6 separate regions of the Homo sapiens genome follow, and regions 1, 2, 3, 4 and 5 are each reported to be linked to region 6. Evidence: microRNA targets listed by miRTarBase, many of them from high-throughput screens and not tested one by one. Region 6 holds a microRNA gene; each other region holds the end of a gene's coding sequence. Distances are from middle to middle.
What was found. The annotated mature microRNA hsa-miR-5193 reads UCCUCCUCUACCUCAUCCCAGU and lies in region 6 at 1,455-1,476, opposite strand. An mRNA with a match to its seed (bases 2 to 7 or 8) in the 3' UTR can be bound and repressed. Matches are read on the target gene's strand: a 7mer-m8 pairs with bases 2 to 8, a 7mer-A1 pairs with bases 2 to 7 and ends in A, and an 8mer does both.

Region 1 (3,125 bases), not on the chromosome of region 6:
TGATCACTATAAATTCCAAACGCTTTTCCTCACTCTTATTCTTTTCTTGTAAAGAGGCTATTCCAATCCCCTGCAGTTTCTGTTATCAAAGGCAAGATATACAAGGACAGTAGGTCCTGTCTGTTCTCTTCAACATGGCACATACAGCACCTTGGACAGTGCCTGATACAGGACATTGCTCAATAAATACATCAGCAATGAAGAAAAAAGAAATAAAAGAAAAGCCAGTTTGGGGACTGGAATGAGAGGTAGGAGTGAGGAACAGAAAATAAAACAAATATAATTGAAATAATACTGGGAAAACATCACTCATGTTGTCAAATCAGAAAAAAATTTAAGCTGAGAACAATGCATTATTTTTCTTTAATACTTTACCAAAGGGTGAACAGCCATATCTCAGGCTGTATGCAACATTAAATTCCAAAATAATTTCTAGTAATTTAAAAATAGCATTGAAGAATAATTTTTTGAAGTACAATATTTTGTTTTTTGAGAGGAAGTCTCCCTCTTGTCCTCCAGGCTGGAGTGCAATGGCGCAATCTCAGCTCACTGCAACCTCCGCCTCCCGGGTTCAAGCGATTCTCCTGCCTCAGCCTCCCGAGTAGCTGGGATTACAGACATGCGCCACCATGCCCAGCTGATTTTTGTATTTTAGTAGAGATGGGTTTTCACCATGTTGGCCAGGCTGGTCTTGAACTCCTGACCTCAAGTGGTCTTCCTGCCTCAGCCTCCCAAAGTGCTGAGATTAACAGGCGTGACCCACCGTGCCTGGCCTGAAGTACAATTTTTTAACTTGCTACTATTATGTAAAAAAACACTAAGTTGGAAAAAATTTATATAATGAATTCATTTGGGTAAAAATTTATACATAAAAAATTTCTGCAAGAATGTAAACTATTAATCATTTTCCCTGGGAAGAACTGAGGGGCCTAATGCAGAAAGGGAGCTTTTATTAGTTACTTATATGCTTTTGTACTATTTGAATTTTTTGTTTTTACAATCAATATGTACATTTTATAATAAAACTCATTTAAAGGGAAAATGTCCAGTTTGTATTTGTGAAACACTCAGGTAGAAACTTAGAAATTGCAATCTCTTATAATATATTGATTGTTGATAATATTAAAGTTTGCGTTTTCTGTTTTATAGAGAGCCAGGGTCTTGCTATGTTGCTCAGGCATGAACTCCTGGGCTCAAGCAATCCTCCCGCCTTGGCATCCCAAAGTGCTAGGATTACAGGCATGTACCGCTATGTCTGGCCTGCACCACCATGCCTGGCCTGCACTTGCTATTTATTCTCTCTTTACTAAAATAAGAAAGTGGGAAATTAAATAGATTATGACAAAAGAAAGTGAAATAGACTAGGACAAAAGAAAAATGAAACAATATAGATCAGTCTCCTCCAATTCAGGAAAAAATACTATTACATTCAAGAAACGAAAATTTTCCAAAAGCTCAAATCATAAACAGCTATCTTCTAGTTTCTGTCATATCTTTACTATCATTGAACATGTATTCAAATTTAGGGTTTTAAGGTCTCCACAAAAGATAACTATTATATATTTAGTGCAACCAGGTACAAGACAGGCTCAAAAACAAACAAAACTGAATTGCTCATTCTAATAATAATCTAGAGAATCCTTCCACATAAATTTAAAAAATGATCTCAATAGGGACATCCTAAGTAAAGGAATATCAGAGAATGTTATTACAGGTGGGCTGGCCATAAACTTGTAAAATGTAATTTTTTAGCTCTTTTTTTTTTTTGAGATGGAGTCTAGCTCTGTCACCCAGGCTGAAGTGCAGTGGCGCGACCTCGGGTTCATTGTATCCTCCACCTCCCGCGTTCAAGCAATTCTCCTGCCTCAGCCTCTTGAGTAGCTGGGGCTACAACAGGCATGCGCCACTATGCCTGGCTAATTTTTTATATTTTTAGTAGAGACGGGGTTTCGCCATGTTGGCCAGGCTGGTCTTGAACTCCTGACCTCAAGTGATCTGCCCTCCTCGGCCTCCGAAAAGTGCTGGGATTACAGGCATGAGCCACCATGCCTGGCCACTGGTTATTTTTTACTGTTGACATACTTAATTACAAAATAATAACTTTAAAAGGTATGGTTCTTCAATAATGACACATATATCAGAAGGTAATAATACTAAAAAAAAGATCTGTGAAAAAACTTTCAAAATAAAAAAATTAAATATAATTTTAAAAAATGACGTAGAAAAACTGGATTTATCATGTGTAACATGTTTTGAAATATCTATACATTGTGGAATGGCTCAATATAGCTAATTAACGTGCATTACCTTATGTGCTTTTTTGGAAAAACCACTTAAAATTTACTCAGTGACTTTCAAAATACATTGTTGTTAATTACAGTCACCAAGCTGTACAACAGATCTCTTGAACTCAGTTGCCTTGTCTAACTGAAATTTTGTAAATTTTGACCAATATCTCCTCAATCCTCCACTGCCCCACCAGCCCTTGATAACCACCATTCTATTCTCTCCTTCTATGAGTTCAACTTAAGATTCCACAGTGAGATTATGCAGCATTTGTCTTTCTAAGCCTGGCTTATTTTACTTAACATGTCCTCCAGGTTGTCACAGATGAAAGGATTTCCTTGTTTTTAAGCATTAAATACTGTTCCATCAATACCATTTTTAATATATTTAAATTATATCCATTTTGGAAGTAGTAACAGCATGCTTTGATGGTGGCTCAGTAGAAGACATTGTATCAGAAATCCACAAATTAAGCAACTGTTTCTTATGAAGTGCATCATTTTCCTGGTTGGCCTGTTCATCCAGTGACTTTCTTATACAATTCTTTAATTCTTCGATTCCTTCTCCAGTAACTGCAGATATGGGGATGATATGTTGGAACTCTACAGTCCTCTCTGGAATCATGTTTTTTTCAAATAAATGCAGAAAATCTAAAAGAAAGAGCACAAACAAAGCTGATTTCCATTGTTTTCGAAAGTTAGTTAAAACCATGTTAATGGTTTGATTTGTGAAGCAGGGAACCAACACCAGCATTTTTCATGCCTTTTTTCACCTTTTCTAATAAGTTCTCAGAGCCTTTGGATTTTACCATTGATTATGGTAAGGTTCTTGGCACATAA
Region 2 (3,125 bases), not on the chromosome of region 6:
GTTTGACTAGTTGGAACTTTTTATAGTAATTGCATGTTTTTTAAGATCCTCATTGCCCTATTATACCCAATCTGTTTGATATGTAAGTTTAATATGTGGTTAATGCAAAACAGTTAGCTAATATACTATTTATTTTAAGCAAATGTATCACATAATTATCACAGACTCAGAAAATGGTTCTTCTCTGTGCTGTGTTGCCATAGAACCCTTTTTGTGTGTCTCTTTTTTATATATTTCTCACTTAGGCTACAGAGGACAGAAGGGAGAAAGAGGTGAACCTGGAATTGGGCTGCCAGGGAGTCCAGGTCTTCCTGGGACTTCAGGTAAGTGGGATATTGTCTTCACAACACAAGCAAGCCTTTACAAATTAGAACCATGCTTCTCCCCTAGGGTCCTTATATGTCAAGTCGAGTGATCCATGTTGGCTAGAGGGTGGGAGAGAGGAAGGGCCATATGTGATCTGCATTGTAATTTTTTTTTTATGTCGTTAGCTCTGGGTTTGCCAGGCTCACCAGGTGCCCCAGGCCCACAGGGCCCCCCAGGACCCAGTGGAAGATGTAACCCAGAAGATTGCCTCTATCCTGTGTCTCATGCCCATCAGCGCACAGGTGGGAATTGAACACACCTGAAGAAGACTTGGTTCCTGGTAACATTTCCTTGCCACTGGAGCTCTCTTAATACCGTCAAACCCTCATCATCTGTGGGTTGCTTTTTTTTTTTTTTTTTTTTTTTGGGAGTAAGCCAGGCATTAAAAGCAACCGTTTGAATCCTATTCCTATAGCAATTGCAAATCAGCATTTTTTGATTTTTCCCAAATTCATTCCATATGTTTTGCTTTACAATTGCTATGATTTTTACTCAGAGTTTTATATGAAATATGCAAGTAAATCTTATCGTTAGTTCTTCTTCAAAAGGAAATTGCATCTTGTGACTTAGTAGACTGATGATGATATCCATTTTGTAGACTCATCAACATGTGGTTGGCCTTTGATTTCTGAATTTTAAAGTTTCAGACTTATCTTTTCCTTGGTGTTTAAATTTACTATCATTGCTAAACATCTCGTCAACTTTTTTGATATAGTGCATTGCTCCTGTTGAATGTTTTTTGACTACTTTTTATAACTTAAGAATTTTTATACCATCTACATCTATCCTACTTATGCAGAAAAATAGGCAATAAGAACTTCATTTTACAATTTATGTTTTCAAAAAAAAAATGCAGGAAACTGTTTTATCAGGGAGCCCAAACACCCAGCATAGCCAACTACTGAAATGATTTTGTTAATTCTGTATAATGAGCTCAATTCAAAGCAATCACCACTGGCATGAATAAGTACTGCATGAAAAGGGAGTATCAAATTCCAGTTTTGTATGAGTTCTGCAAAAAAAGCCTAATATTCTGTGGTCCCCTCACTCAGTCTCTCATTTGGTAAACAGAAAGCTGTTTTCCCTACAAGGTGCTTGGTGGTGAAGCCACCAAGCTGTCTTTGGTACTCTTAAAGCTTCAGTGGCCTAGCAAGATCTTTGGGCCCTTGTATCCATTATCCTTATGACCTCATCACCCTCAGACTTTAAGACAAGAAGCCACCATCAAAACAAAGGATGGGATACGTATAGAATGGACTCACTTGTCCTAGAAGATGAATGTGTAGTGTCAGCAAATGCATGTTAAGAAGGTGAAGCCCAAAAGCTCTTAAGGAGAATTGTATTTCTCCAGAAGCTGCAGCAAGAGGTACAGCTCAACAAAGGAAAACCACAGGACTGGATATGCAACTAGTGCTCAGACCAAAGAGTTCACACCCACTCTAAAACCATGTCCTCTGAAAAGAAACAAAAATACAGTGATCATCAAATGCCTAAACAGTCTTTCTGTTGGTTAGCTGTACATTCATTGAGGAACTGTTGATTGGCAGGCACTGATTCTCTAGAACACTGGGCATGAGGATGTTGCAGAAATCTAGATGGTGGGTCCCACAGATGTGAGAACATGCTGCAAGAGCCTGCCAGCCACAGCAATCAGGACTCACAGCTCTTCAAGGAGCAGTGCAGATTTCAATTTGGCTAAAACAGGATGATTGCTTTTGTCTGTTTACTGAAAAATGAGTTTAGAAAGGCTAGCCCACTGACATTGGAAAAAGCTGTGAACAGAGTTGTGTCTGAGGAATGTGCCTAATTTAAGGCAGGGTTTGTTCCAATGCATCCGTGATTTGAACCGGTTTTCATTATAGATTAATGAACTGCTGGTCAGGTACTGTCTACAATGGCTGTGCATACCTATAACATTTTAGGTATTTCATATTGAATTATGCTGTATATTTCAATTCCAAGTTTATTTATTTTCCAAGGTTATTTTATTTATTGTAAGCATTTTGACATTGATTTTTTTTTTTTCGTTTTCTTTCTTGTGCAATACCTACAATGGTGCTGTGTTTTAAACTTACACAATTGGGACATACGTATGTGTTTTCTTAGTAAAATGGTAATTTATCCCGAAAAAGTGTACATAGATCTAAAATTTGGTGCTATGTGTATATCTTGAGCTTTTAATTTGTTGAATTTTCTAAACGCTTACAACTTATCTGCCACTCATATTAATTTACTTGAATTTGTCATAAAGCTAAATATTTTATATGTTTTCAAAGATTATTTTTTCATATTAATAGGTTGTTTATCTTTTTGCCTGTTTGCTAATTTAAAAATATTTATTTTATCATTTTAATGTTTTCATGGACTTTTTTGCTGATGGTAATCAACTTTTTTTGTTTTTTGGTTTTTGAGTTGTTCTTGTCATAGACATAAAAAGACAATTCATTTTCTTGTTTTATTAACTCTGTTCATTTTTATTCTACAAAATATGTCATGCATTCTTTCTTATGAATTGTATATTTAGAAATCTTTCTAAATACCATTAAGGCTTGACTGGTTAATTCCTATTTCAAGGATTTGGATTTATTCAGGTAATTTGATGGGATGGGGAAATATAATATTGTGTGATGCATATTACAAAGTGGACTTGTCACAATGACACAAACTCATTTTTTGTAACTGGGAAATATGACTAAATTTGACGTAACTAGAGAAACAAGGCTGTATCCACATGGTACAAGCCTTTCTCACCCTACTCT
Region 3 (3,125 bases), not on the chromosome of region 6:
TTATAAACACAAATATTTACAAAAAAAAAAAAACACAAAACCTTGTTTTCGAAAGATGAGGTTTGCAGTTCATTAATGATCATAATCTTTTGTAAGCTGGTTTCTTTGGTGTATTTGCCAAATATATTTTTATAAAGGTTTAGTAATAGGCTTAAATAATAAATTTCAAAGGAAACATAAAAGAATCTGACAAATTTGAAAATATTCTGAACATTTTCTGTTCTGTTTCTGGAAAAAACAATCGGTTGATTTTTCTGAAAATATCTGTTCTCCCTATTCATTATGTGACCATGGAATGCTTCTCTGTGAATCCAATTCAAATGCAGACCTGCAGGTGTCACCACTATCATCTACCAGTAACCCACCTGGAGACATTTTAGTTATTGTGAAATGTGATTGGGATTTTATTAACAACAAAAATAAAACATTCTTTTTAAGCTTCCAGATAAATCAAACCTCAAACAATAAATAATGGAATTATACACTTCTTCATTAAATAGAAATTTCAAAATTCCAGGAAGAGCTCTCATAATTTTTTTTTTCTGAAGTCACAGCAGCAATACAGAACAAAGAATTTACCTTAATCTGATCTTTTTACGTGGAATTCCCTGACTCAAACTCAGTGGCTTAGTTTGGAAACCTCTGAATGGCTGGGGAGAGAAAATCTTTTGAAACTAAGTGAATAAATTAACACACACATACGTGGAAATCAGCCCTTGTGCAAGTGTAACATGAACATCACTGATGAGAGTGCAGAAACTCCAGGCACCCCTCTGCCTCCTCCTATCCCTGGGCCTGGGGTTGTAGGGAGAAGTCACACTCAATTCATTTCTAGCCACACCATGTCCCTAACAGTGCTAGTGTGAACTAGCCCTGACCTGGGTATTGGTTTAAAGAATGAGAATACAGCTTGGCAACTGTCTTCATAAGGGACTCTCTCTGGAGATAACTTTTTGGAACATTTTTATGGGGAAGAGGACAGACTACCCGTTCCTATCCATCAGGCTCCAGCTAGTTTGGGGATGGTTATAGAACTGGCCACACTCAGAGTGGCTGCCTGCGAAAGAGTCTATGCCAAAGAGTCTATGGGCCACACCAGCAATCTCCCGAATAATCCTCTTCTCTGAAGCTGCCCGTCTTCGGAAACCTGTGCAATGCTTAGGCACAAGCAGATCAGAGTCTAAGAGCAAACGCTGTGCTTGAGAAAACAGCACTGCTGGCTCTGAAAAAGGTGAAGCCAGAGAAAACTCCTAGTTCTGCTTAGTTACACTTCTGGGTGAAACAGTTTTACACTTCATGACTTAAATCTAGAAATTCAGACGAGAGAAGCCCTTCGTCTTGTAAACTTCTGATAACAAATTTATTAACAGTGTGTTAAATATTTTTTCCCAAAGCACTAAGAACGATACTGGGACATTTGAAAAGGTTCTTCTGAAGTTAATAACACAAATCAAGCCAGAATACGTTTCTGAGGGCATCCTCTTAGATGCCTAATGCCTCTGGGACCTTTTCCATTGTTACTGACACTTTATCATATCCGTGTTTACACGGCAAACATATGCCCAATCAACCCAGAAAATAATTGTCCTGAAGAGCCTCACTGTATATAACCTTAAAATGGGAAATGTTTAATTAGCATATTAGAAATTAGCCAGACTTATAAATGTGTACCCCTTAAAGATTTTACGCTTAAAAAGTTTTTTTTTTAAACTGGGAAGAAAAGAAACACCATGAAGCCACCCCAAATTATTGAACCATTAAAGCCAAATGATTTAACAATTTTTAAGGGAAGACTCGACCACCAGGGTACAAAATTTTCTGCTTAAAGTGAAGTCAAAGACATAGCTTCAGATGGAAATTGCAACTGACATACGATGGCTCTGCAGTGACAACTGAAGCGGCGGCTCCTGTCCTCACGGGCATGTCAAAGCTGGCTGTGAAATGACGACCAGCAAGTGAAATAATGGATAAAATACACCAGAAGGAGTATTGCACTGCAGGCACAGTTTTAAAAACAGAATACACTGGCTTCACAAAGTTATTTTCTTTCCCGTTAATTTTTTTAAAAGTACAACTCTAACTAGAGATAGAAATCGAGATGCAGTGTCTCAGGGTAGTGTACTACAGTTGTTAAAAAAAAAATAAGTTAAAAACAAGAGCACAGCAAAAGAAAAGCAGAGGTACTGGATTTATGTCATAAGCAGAGATACTGGATTTATGTCATCCGAAAGCTACATTAATTAGGAAAAAGAACAGTTTGAAACGGCCAGTTTGTACTCATTAAAAATGAATGAGGTGACAGCGTTACTTCAAACATTTCTTAGGGCATTTTCCAAAAGAACCCAGGGTCGCCCTGGGTGAAACTGTGCCTCCAAACGTTAACAAGTGCTCTGCTGGTTTAGAATACCGTGCTTACCAAGGAACCATAAATTTGGAAAGGGTAAATTCTCCACTCTAAACCTGCTTGTGTCATTTAAGAAAAGACAATTTTTCTAAATGCAGTATTGTATACAAAGCTTGGACCTCTTAAACTTGGACCAAGAAACCAAATTAAGACCTTCAAGCATGTGGTGTGTGTTTTTATATATATATAAAAAATCCCTCCCCTACAATGAAAACCAACCAAACAAACAGAAAACCCAAAAGTGTATACCTGCTTTCTGATTTCACAGCAAATCAGAAATTGCATAGGATATACTTTGTGCAAGGCAAAAAGCCTTTTAAGTATCTAGAATAGAACTCCTAATCTTGCTCACAGTTCTGGCATATCAGATATCATCAAATTTGTGTTTTAAGTAGTCTTTCATGACCTTGGCAATTGGTAGTTCATCAAGTAGCTTTAGGTTTTGAAGGCCTATACATTGTCGAATTTTAATTCGGCACAGGTCCTGCAAGTTTCTGGGCTGTCCTAAAAAGACAGAAAAAAGAAAATGTTACAAAGCCACAAAGCACAATATTTAAGGCACTTTTGAAAAGAACTGTTCATTTCCCTGGAAGTTCTCTCTATGGACTTGACATGCAAAGGACCGGAAAGATACCAACTCAAAGTGTCCTAGGACCTTCATGCGATGCCTTATTTGATCCTTTTCACAACCGTGGGATGGTGGATATTTTCAACTCCATTT
Region 4 (3,110 bases), not on the chromosome of region 6:
GACATGTAATCACAGTATTTGATAGAAATATAAAGAAAATAGTTTAAGAATCAGTAGATGCCTTCACATCCTTGGTAATGGATTAAGGGAATCTCTGGCTAATTGGCTCTTACTCTTTCTCTATTAAAGCCTTTTGACTCGGATGAAGAGACACGGAAGGGGAGAAATCATTGGAATTCAGAAGCTGAATTCAGATGACACTTACCAGACCGCCCTCTTGAGTGGCTCAGATGAGGAATGAGCCGAGATGCGGAGGGCGCAGATGTCCCACTGCACAGCTGGAATGAATGGAGTTCATCCCCTCCACCTGAATGCCTGCTGTGGTCTGATCTTAAGGGTCTATATATTTGCACCTCCTCATTCAACACAGGGCTGGAGGTTCTACAACAGGAAATCAGGCCTACAGCATCCTGTGTATCTTGCAGTTGGGATTTTTAAACATACTATAAAGTCTGTGTTGGTATAGTACCCTTCATAAGGAAAAATGAAGTAATGCCTATAAGTAGCAGGCCTTTGTGCCTCAGTGTCAAGAGAAATCAAGAGATGCTAAAAGCTTTACAATGGAAGTGGCCTCATGGATGAATCCGGGGTATGAGCCCAGGAGAACGTGCTGCTTTTGGTAACTTATCCCTTTTTCTCTTAAGAAAGCAGGTACTTTCTTATTAGAAATATGTTAGAATGTGTAAGCAAACGACAGTGCCTTTAGAATTACAATTCTAACTTACATATTTTTTGAAAGTAAAATAATTCACAAGCTTTGGTATTTTAAAATTATTGTTAAACATATCATAACTAATCATACCAGGGTACTGCAATACCACTGTTTATAAGTGACAAAATTAGGCCAAAGGTGATTTTTTTTTAAATCAGGAAGCTGGTTACTGGCTCTACTGAGAGTTGGAGCCCTGATGTTCTGATTCTTCAAAGTCACCCTAAAAGAAGATCTGACAGGAAAGCTGTATAATGAGATAGAAAAACGTCAGGTATGGAAGGCTTTCAGTTTTAATATGGCTGAAAGCAAAGGATAACGAATTCAGAATTAGTAATGTAAAATCTTGATACCCTAATCTTGCTTCTGGATCTGTTCTTTTTTTAAAAAAACTTCCTTCACCGCGCCTATAATCCTAGCACTTTGGGAGGCCGAGGCAGGCAGATCACGGGGTCAGGAGATCAAGACCATCCTGGCTAACATGGTGAAACCCCGTCTCTACTGAAAATACAAAAAATTAGCCGGGTGTGGTGGCGGGCGCCTGTAGTTCCAGCTACTCGGGAGGCTGAGGCAAGAGAATGGCATGAACCCGGTAGGGGAGCTTGCAGTGAGCCCAGATCATGCCACTGTACTCCAGCCTAGGTGACAGAGCAAGACTCTGTCTCAAAAACAAGCAAACAGACTTCCTTCAACAAATATTTATTAAATATCCACTTTGCAACAGCACTGAAATGGCTGTAAGGACTCCTGAGATATGTGTCCAGCAAGGAGTTTACAGTCAAACAGGAGAGACATGCCTGTAGTTACATCCAGTGTGATGGGTGCTGAGAGGCAAGTACAAACCACGATGAGAAAAAGGAGAGGAGGGGAAATGCAGAGCTTGCCCTGTAGAAAAAGCACATCCCAGGTAGAGAGGGTAGCACATTAAAAAATGAAAGCATAAAAAAATACGGAGAACTTAAAAAGATTAAGTTCTACAAACTGATAAAAGTGAGTTAGGACCAAGTTGATGGGCCTTAGAGACCAAATAATACTTTCCGTGTGCATAGTATTTTTCAGATTCTGAGATGCACCCTATCTCATTTGATTCTCACAACCGCTTGTAATGTGTAAGAGCATGAGGTCTTTCAGAAAAGCTGGCTGGCCTAGCAGGGCGCGGTGGCTCACGCCTGTAATCCCAGCACTTTTGGAGGCCGAGGCGGGTGGATCATGAGGTCAAGAGATCGAGACCATCCTGGCCAACATGGTGAAACCCTGTCTCTACTAAAAATATAAAAATTAGCTTGGTGTGGTGGTGAGCACCTGTAGTCCCAGCTACTTGGGAGGCTGAGGCAGGAGAATCACTTGAACCCAGTAGGCGGAGGTTGCACAGTGAGCCGAGATTATGCCACTGCACTCCAATCTGGCAACAGAGTGAGACTCCATCTCAAAAAAAAAGAAAAGTTGGCTGGCCTAAGACCACACAGATGCTAGGTGGCAAAGCCAGTCTTATGACTCCAAAACCAGGCATCTGTCTCACCATTCTAACCCTGCTACGTCACACAAATCCAGGAGAGAGAATTTACATAAAGCACTGCATGCGCTTTGGAAGAAATGCTGTACTTAATTAAGTGAAGGTAACCTCCCAGAGTTAGCCAGCCTTTCAGAGTTGAAGTCACAGCTTAGGGATTCAAAATGAGCTACTAAAAACACTAATTTAGTTATTAGAGAACTCCGGGTTCCACTTTCAGGATCCACCTTGGTTGGCCAGTGGAAAAACACAAGTATTCTTCATTCAACAAGTACTGAAGGACCTATTATTGGCAATGAACGTAACATGTGTTCTTTCCTTGGGGACTGCAGGTGGGCAGAAGGACCTGTTCAGTTTTACTTTCAAAGAAAAGATCCACATTTGAGGTTTCTTTAAGTGTACCATATTTTAAGAAAGAAAATGTACTATTTTCTCCAGAGTGAGGGGCTAAGGTGTGAAGAACAGATATAAAATATTAAAATGTATTCAGATGCCCTTCACACAGCAAGGCTTGTGATGCCTTCATGGAAGTGATCAACCCTATCATAAACATTGTTAGATGTGGTATTAAAGTATAAACTGATGACAGTACTATTCTCCACATCCTGTCTTAGATATGTTTTCTGAATAATTTTACCCATATCTGTCAACCAGAGGCTCAATGGTTGCCACCAGAAGTCCTTTTGAAATTGTTCCCTACAAAACACCCACCATGGCTGGGTGCAGTGGCTCACGCCTGTAATCCCAGCACTTTGGGAGGCTGAGGCAGACAGATCACCTGAGGTGACAAGTTGGAGACCAGCCTAGCCAAAATGGTGAAACCCCATTTCTACCAAAAATACAAAAATTAGCAGGGCGTGGTGGCACGTGCCTGTGATTGATCCCAACTAC
Region 5 (3,000 bases), 6.8 Mb from region 6:
GTCCCATCAGTTTAGTCATTTTAATGTTCTCACTCATCAGACATTTTTGGGGACACCATATGCCCTTTCATCAAGTCAGTCTCAAGAAAATGAGAATTACTTCTTATCTGCTTATACTGAAAGCTTGGATAGAGATAAATCTCCACCTCCCTTAAGTTGGGGGAAAAGTGATTCTTCCAGGCCATATTCACAAGAGAAATAACTGTAGTAACTTTTTTTTTAAGAGATTGTTGTGGACTTTGTTTATTAACAATTTATATTTCATTCTCTAAACAAAAGGTTCTTGTTCTTTCTCAAATGTTTTTTCTTTTATTTAAATCATGATGGCCTGTAACAGTTGAAGCATCTAAAAATTGAAATAAATATATATTTTTAACATATATTGTACTTGAATTATCTCATGTTGGCACTTCTAAGTTTTACTTTTTGTATGTTACCTGTACTTAGGCTTCAAATTGAAGCCTGTTTTATGTGTAAAATCAGATGCTTGCAGGAGGACGGTAAACAGCAAAGGCTTTACTTCTTTTTCTCTAATGTCACCTGATATAAAGTACTTTTGTTGAAGTGAATTATTTTGATGTAGGCTTTTGTATACTGTGTTTACACAGGTATAAGTCAGTAATAGCAGTGTTAATATTTACAGGATTTTGGCTCGATACCTCAAGATTTATCTAACAGTGCAGTTTCATTTAGATAATAAACTATGTACATAGGACACATTTTTTATCTCTAGGCTTAGTCATGTAAAAACTGCCTATTGCTAAAATTCTGGTAACTTTTTGAGAGTATTGGATAATTTTCAGTACCTGCGCAATCCTTGATTTAATGAAATTAAATTTTTTATTTCAAAAGATAGGCTTCTGTTTATCAAAGGCGTTGAACAATTTGATTTTTAAATTAGTTTTAGCAAAATGGAAGTATAATGGGAATATATTTTTGAGGTGGTCTTAGTAGTAATTACCATTTGTTGAACACATTAATGCTATACTAGACAGATACAGTGGAGATAGCTTTCAAACCCGTATCTATTCCTAACTACTGCCTCTAATACTAATTACTAACTTGTTACTAATGCTAACTTTTAAAAATGTTTTTGAAAATTGCAATTTCTACAAATAAATGTCATAGTGCAAATAAATGTCAGGATTTAGAGAAGGAGCCTAAACTGAATTTGTGTTATTTCAGTAAAAGTTATGGAGTTATGGGTCTAGACGTGTTAATAAGTTAGACAGAACTTTGGCACTTTAGAACAAATGCATGAGTGGTATTTCAGTTCCTAAGTTACATAAAAAGTGTGAAAGAACACTGTGAGGTCCCAGCAACGCCAGACTATATTAAGGTAAGTAGAAAGTGTTTTTATAGGGCTTCAATACCCAGGTGGTGACAGAGCAGAAGAACCGGTTTTTTTTTTTTTTTTTTTACTACTAAGCTTTTACAAAAGAAGTATCTGTTTTATTGTATAGAACAAGTACAGCATTTTACTACATAGTATACAAGTTTTTAATGAGCATTTAAAAAAATAAGTAAATCTAGGCTATTTGAAAAATACAGTTGAGCCAGTGAGCACATTTTATAATTTGGAAGACACAAATCAAATGTGAAGGATTTGATTTTCTACATTTAAAATGAAGAACCAAAACTCTCTTCTTGATTTTCAGCTAAAGGCAGGAGACTACTTTCCAACTCCTTTTGCTTCTGGAGAAGGCCCTGAAATCACATTGATATATGTTTGTTAGTAAAATGTGCACACCTGACTTGCAATGTTGTGTTAAACTAGAATTATATTCACTTGGAAAACATATCGCTTAGGATAAAATTTTGTCATTCAAAAATTTTTTCAGAAATGCTTGTACTAGACCACCTCATTTGGATATATAGCTATCACATTTGTAAGATTCTGTTTTTAGCATAAAAATCAATAGGGATGAAAATTTTCTTAGAACTCAAGACTCCATAACTATGGGGGTAAATGAAGTCATCCCTTCTCCCCCAGTCCACCCCCAAGTGCTCTTAGATACTGAAGGAGTCTCCCTTAACATACAGTGTTTTTTTTTTGTTGTTGTTGTTTTGTTTTTTTTTGGAGATGGAGTCTCGCTCTGTCGCCCAAGCTGGAGTACAGTGGTGCAATCTCACTGCAAGCTCTGCCTCCCAGGTTCACACCATTCTCCTGCCTCAACCTCCCGAATGGCTGGGACTACAGGCACCCACCACCACGCCTGGCTAACTAACTAACTAACTTTTTGTATTTTTAGTAGAGACAGGGTTTCACTGTGTTAGCCAGGATGGTCTTGATCTCCTGACCTCATGATCTGCCTGCCTCAGCCTCCCAAAGTGCTGGGATTACAGGCTTGAGCCACTGCTCCTGGCCAACATCCAGTATTTTATCTTGACTGTCCTAACCTTACCTTAGATGCTAACAGAAGGGTCCTGCTGAAATAACACTGGGTGCTATATTGATGGGTAAATGTGTACATCCTATTCCTTCCTCTTTATCTCACAATTTTTGTCTCCACTAAGCAAGAAGTAAACTAACACTTCGTCACTCTAAAGAAATAACTTATGTAAAACTCTTAGTAACCCTGTTTGTCTTCAAATGAGTAAATAGACCAAAGTGGGGGGACAATTTTCTAGTTCTGTAGAGGGAAAAACATCTGAGTCAACATTTTGAAATGCAGAGGGTATTGGTACATGACGACATGGAAAAGGGCACTTTTAAACACAGCTTACTCTTCCTCAAGTACAGAGAGTATATAGTGAATCAAAACTAACTACAGCCATTCTTTTTAAAGCCCAAGGGATGGAGCAAAGGTGTAAGGATGTTACCTGTTTGTTTTAATCAGAGAGCAAAAAGAAGTCACAATAGTTTGGGAGAAAAAGTAGTATGGTGAGTAAGGTTATGCGTATAATTTCATACTGAATTTATTACTATTTGGGATGTACGTCAATGTTCTAACAAACACTGCCAACACGTCAATTTTTTAAAAAGCGTGGGCCACATTG
Region 6 (3,125 bases):
GGTGCACAACTGGATGGAGCTGCCTGAGACAGGGAGTGAAGGGGGTGACGGAGGTGGGCACCGTGCCCGTGCTCGGCCCCCTCAGTTCCTGCTTGGCCTCTCTGAGCAGCTTCGGCGCCGGCTGGCCAGGGCTCGGCGGACAGCTATGGCAGGAAAGCGGCTGTCATGCCCACCTCGCCCAGAACCTGAACTGCCTGCGGATGTCTCACGCTTTGCAGCTCTCATGAGCTGTCGTAGCCGCCAGCCCATCATCTGCAATGATGTCAGCTACCTCTGACCCTGCCCTCCAGCCTGGGACAATAAAAGCCTTTTTTCTAGACTGTCCTGGCTCCATACCCCTGAGGCACTAAGAGGCAGCCCCAGCCCTGTGAGGCACTGCCCAGGGAGACAAATCTTCTGAAGAGCTTTTTTTCTCTGTGTGAAGGTCCCTGTCATGCCCATGTCACACCCGTGTGCATTAGTGCACTGTTTTCTATCGTCCATCCTCTCTGCAATGCCTTCCTTTAACAAGCATTTATTGAGTGCCTACTGTGGGCTTACAATGCAGGGCTTGGGATCCGGGGCTCCATTGAGCTAGGTGACAGGGTGGCTGCCTTGTCACAGCTCATAGTGCAGAGGTGGGAAGGCAGTGTCCTCGTCGTCACCCTCACAGCTCAGCTCTAGCACCAACACCCGCTGCCCAGGAGCAGGTGCCTGGCCTGTCAGCTGCTGAACCAGTTCTGTCACCCTGGTAGGGGTGGGTTTAGGGGAGATTGGAGAGGTGAGCCATGGCAAGCAGAAGGCAGCCTGGCATGGACTAGAGAGGGTGCTGGCAGGCCGTCAGGAGCCCAAGCCAGGAGCAGGAGCTGCTCAAGACAGGAAACATCTGAAACTATTTTAGGAGCAGCTGATGAGGCAAGCAGGAGGCAGGAAGCTATGGGTCCCTTGGGAGTGGGCTGTGAAAGGGGGGCTGTGCAGCATGTGGGGAGCCCATGGGGCTGGCCAAATAGGCAGCTCCTGAAGACTCCTCCTCAGGCTCTCGGCCCTCACCCCACCTCCAGCCTGTTTGCTGGCTCCATTTGGGGAAAGAATGCTTGGGAAGGTGTGAGGGGCCCAGAATGGGGCTGGGAAGACAAAAGGCAGTGTGGTCCCTAGCCCCAGCCTCCAGGGACTGGTGGGGCCTGTCTAAAGCCCCAAGTGGGCTCACCTGAGGGGCAGGTGCTGGGCCTGCTTTTCAGGTGACCATCCGGCCGCATAGAGCAGGGCTGAGCCGTGCAGCAGGATCCTCACCCTCAACCCGTGCTGCTCCTAGAGGAGAAAGGTCAGACACCAGCTGGGCCGGGCTGGGCTGAGCCTGGGGGTTGGGGTAGCAACAGGGCACACCTGAAGATGAGCCAGCAGCGACTCCAGGGTCCTCTCAGGCTGCCCAGCTGGTACCTTCAGACGGTCCCAAGAGGTCCACTTCAGGTGATGGAACTGGGATGAGGTAGAGGAGGAGTCAGAGACTTCTTACCTCCCCCCAACCCCCATCCCAGTTACCAGCAGCCTTTCCTAGGGGAAGAGCTGGACTAGCAGGAAACAGGAGCCAGGGGGTGGGGGGTGGGGGGGAGGTGGGATCTGGGCCCAGAGTCTCAGCCCCCTCCCCGTCCAGGCCGGGGCCAGCACAGGAAATGGGGCTATGGGGCCCGCACAGGGAAACAGACGATCCATCACATGGGCCAGTTGTGAGAGTGGGGGATGAGGGGGTGGTGCTTCCTGAGGAAACCCAGAGCAGGGCCCCTGCAGCCTCTGATAAAGCTGCTTGTTCCTCAAAGACAAGGCTGGGAGCTGGGGGGCACATCCTGTCCCCCAATCTTGTATGTACTGCCAGTGCCTTGGGCTACTCATTGGGACACAGGGGCAAAGGGCACAGTGACCACCAGGGCCCCACTGTCCCAGAGACCCCAGCAGGGATACAATGCATAGAGGCTTCCTCCTCCTGTCCCTTCCTTCCTTCCAAGAGTCTTGGGGTTCTGGGACCTAGAGCTAAGGACAGAAGGATGGCTGGCAGGTATCTAGAGACCAGGACAGGGGGTGCTTATCAGCCCCTGAGAAAACACACTGGGGTCAAGCTGAGACTAGGCTAGAGGTGAGATGGGGGCTTCTCCTTCACCTGCTTCACTCTGTGGACAAAGGCAGCCTGTATGCTGGTTAGAGGCAGGGTGCCTCACAAAGGGGCTCTGTGTGCTAGTCCAGAGGGACCCCAGGCTGCTCAGCAGAAACCCAGTGCTGGCCCATGACCTCTGCCCTCTCCCCTCATGAGGGCATTCCTTCTACCCTCATCCTTGCCCCAAGGAAATGCCAACTGCAGAGCCTGGGCACAAGGCTGGAGGCATTCACAGCGCTGCAGTCACAGGAACACAAATGCCCACAAGCCCAGGAACACACACATGTGTGCCCACATGCATCTCCATGCATGCCCACATTGAGGACACAGGAAGATGGGAGCCCTGCACTCCCATCTGATGCACAGATGTGCAAACTTGCTCCTTCCATACCCACACTCCGGGGATGCCCAGACCCCAGTTGCACTCACAACTGTGACACAAATACACTCAGGGCTGCAGACCCCACACCTCTAGTGGCAAGCCTATTACCTTTTAACTCAGCTTGTAGGAGGTAGGCCAGGGCCCCCGTACCATGCAGGGGGAAGCTAGACTCTTTCTGGGGCTGATGCCCTGGTCCCCTCCCCACTACCTACCCCTCAGGGGTACTCCAAGGAAGGAGGGGACTGTGGGGGATGTCTGGCTCCACTAATGAGTTAAAGCTGCAGCTCCCCCAGATCCTGGGCTTTGGAGGATTGGGGGTGGGGATGGCTGACGGCTGCTTCCTGTGTCTGACAGGTCCCAGCCTGGCTTCATAGCAGGAAGAGGGCTGGAGGGAGTCTTCAGGACTTCTGCACAGTCTGAGTTTCAGTGAGAGCCGGCAGCTAGATTGGGGCCTGTATGGGCAGGTGCAGGGGAAACCCAGGCCTAGTAGGGCTAAGGGTGGGGTATCATGGGCTCACCGTCTGGATGGCTGGGGCAAAAGGCATATAGCGGATGAGGTAGTTTTCAGCCAGATGTAGGTAGCTGTGGCGAAAGGCACTACGAGGCCGTGGCCCACTC

Region 1: miRTarBase lists GTPBP10 as a target of hsa-miR-5193. Seed matches in the 3' UTR shown: 7mer-m8 at 2,000-2,006.
Region 2: the mRNA of COL19A1 is a reported target of hsa-miR-5193. The part of its 3' UTR that is shown has no 7-base or 8-base seed match.
Region 3: miRTarBase lists ASB7 as a target of hsa-miR-5193. Seed matches in the 3' UTR shown: 7mer-A1 at 779-785 and 7mer-m8 at 777-783.
Region 4: miRTarBase lists TMEM45B as a target of hsa-miR-5193. The part of its 3' UTR that is shown has no 7-base or 8-base seed match.
Region 5: miRTarBase lists TASOR as a target of hsa-miR-5193. Seed matches in the 3' UTR shown: 7mer-A1 at 492-498.

What each region holds. Positions count from the first base shown.
Region 1 is chr7:90,384,703-90,387,827 of GRCh38, reverse strand. GTPBP10 (GTP binding protein 10) reads right to left here. Exons shown (of 10, transcript NM_033107.4): 10 at 1-2,936. The coding sequence ends at 2,674. Among named protein-coding and RNA genes, the nearest start is that of CLDN12, 17 kb to the left of the region's middle.
Region 2 is chr6:70,206,656-70,209,780 of GRCh38, forward strand. COL19A1 (collagen type XIX alpha 1 chain) reads left to right here. Exons shown (of 51, transcript NM_001858.6): 50 at 246-323; 51 at 492-3,125. The coding sequence ends at 619. Among named protein-coding and RNA genes, the nearest start is that of COL9A1, 95 kb to the right of the region's middle.
Region 3 is chr15:100,648,106-100,651,230 of GRCh38, reverse strand. It overlaps ASB7 (ankyrin repeat and SOCS box containing 7), which reads right to left. Exons shown (of 6, transcript NM_198243.3): 6 at 1-2,908. The coding sequence ends at 2,769. Among named protein-coding and RNA genes, the nearest start is that of ASB7, 47 kb to the right of the region's middle.
Region 4 is chr11:129,858,445-129,861,554 of GRCh38, forward strand. TMEM45B (transmembrane protein 45B) reads left to right here. Exons shown (of 6, transcript NM_138788.5): 6 at 130-1,559. The coding sequence ends at 241. Among named protein-coding and RNA genes, the nearest start is that of NFRKB, 36 kb to the right of the region's middle.
Region 5 is chr3:56,620,239-56,623,238 of GRCh38, reverse strand. It overlaps TASOR (transcription activation suppressor), which reads left to right. Exons shown (of 24, transcript NM_001365635.2): 24 at 1-3,000. The coding sequence ends at 202. CCDC66 (coiled-coil domain containing 66) reads right to left here. Exons shown (of 18, transcript NM_001141947.3): 18 at 1,402-1,707. The coding sequence ends at 1,621. Among named protein-coding and RNA genes, the nearest start is that of TASOR, 62 kb to the left of the region's middle.
Region 6 is chr3:49,804,711-49,807,835 of GRCh38, forward strand. It overlaps MIR5193 (microRNA 5193), which reads right to left and starts at 1,535; the gene lies at 1,427-1,535. It overlaps INKA1 (inka box actin regulator 1), which reads left to right. Exons shown (of 2, transcript NM_203370.2): 2 at 1-320. The coding sequence ends at 277. UBA7 (ubiquitin like modifier activating enzyme 7) reads right to left here. Exons shown (of 24, transcript NM_003335.3): 21 at 3,026-3,125; 22 at 1,363-1,455; 23 at 1,187-1,287; 24 at 499-727. The coding sequence ends at 598. RefSeq lists enhancers at 1,506-1,800, 1,787-2,066, 2,696-3,125, 2,797-2,966, 3,067-3,116.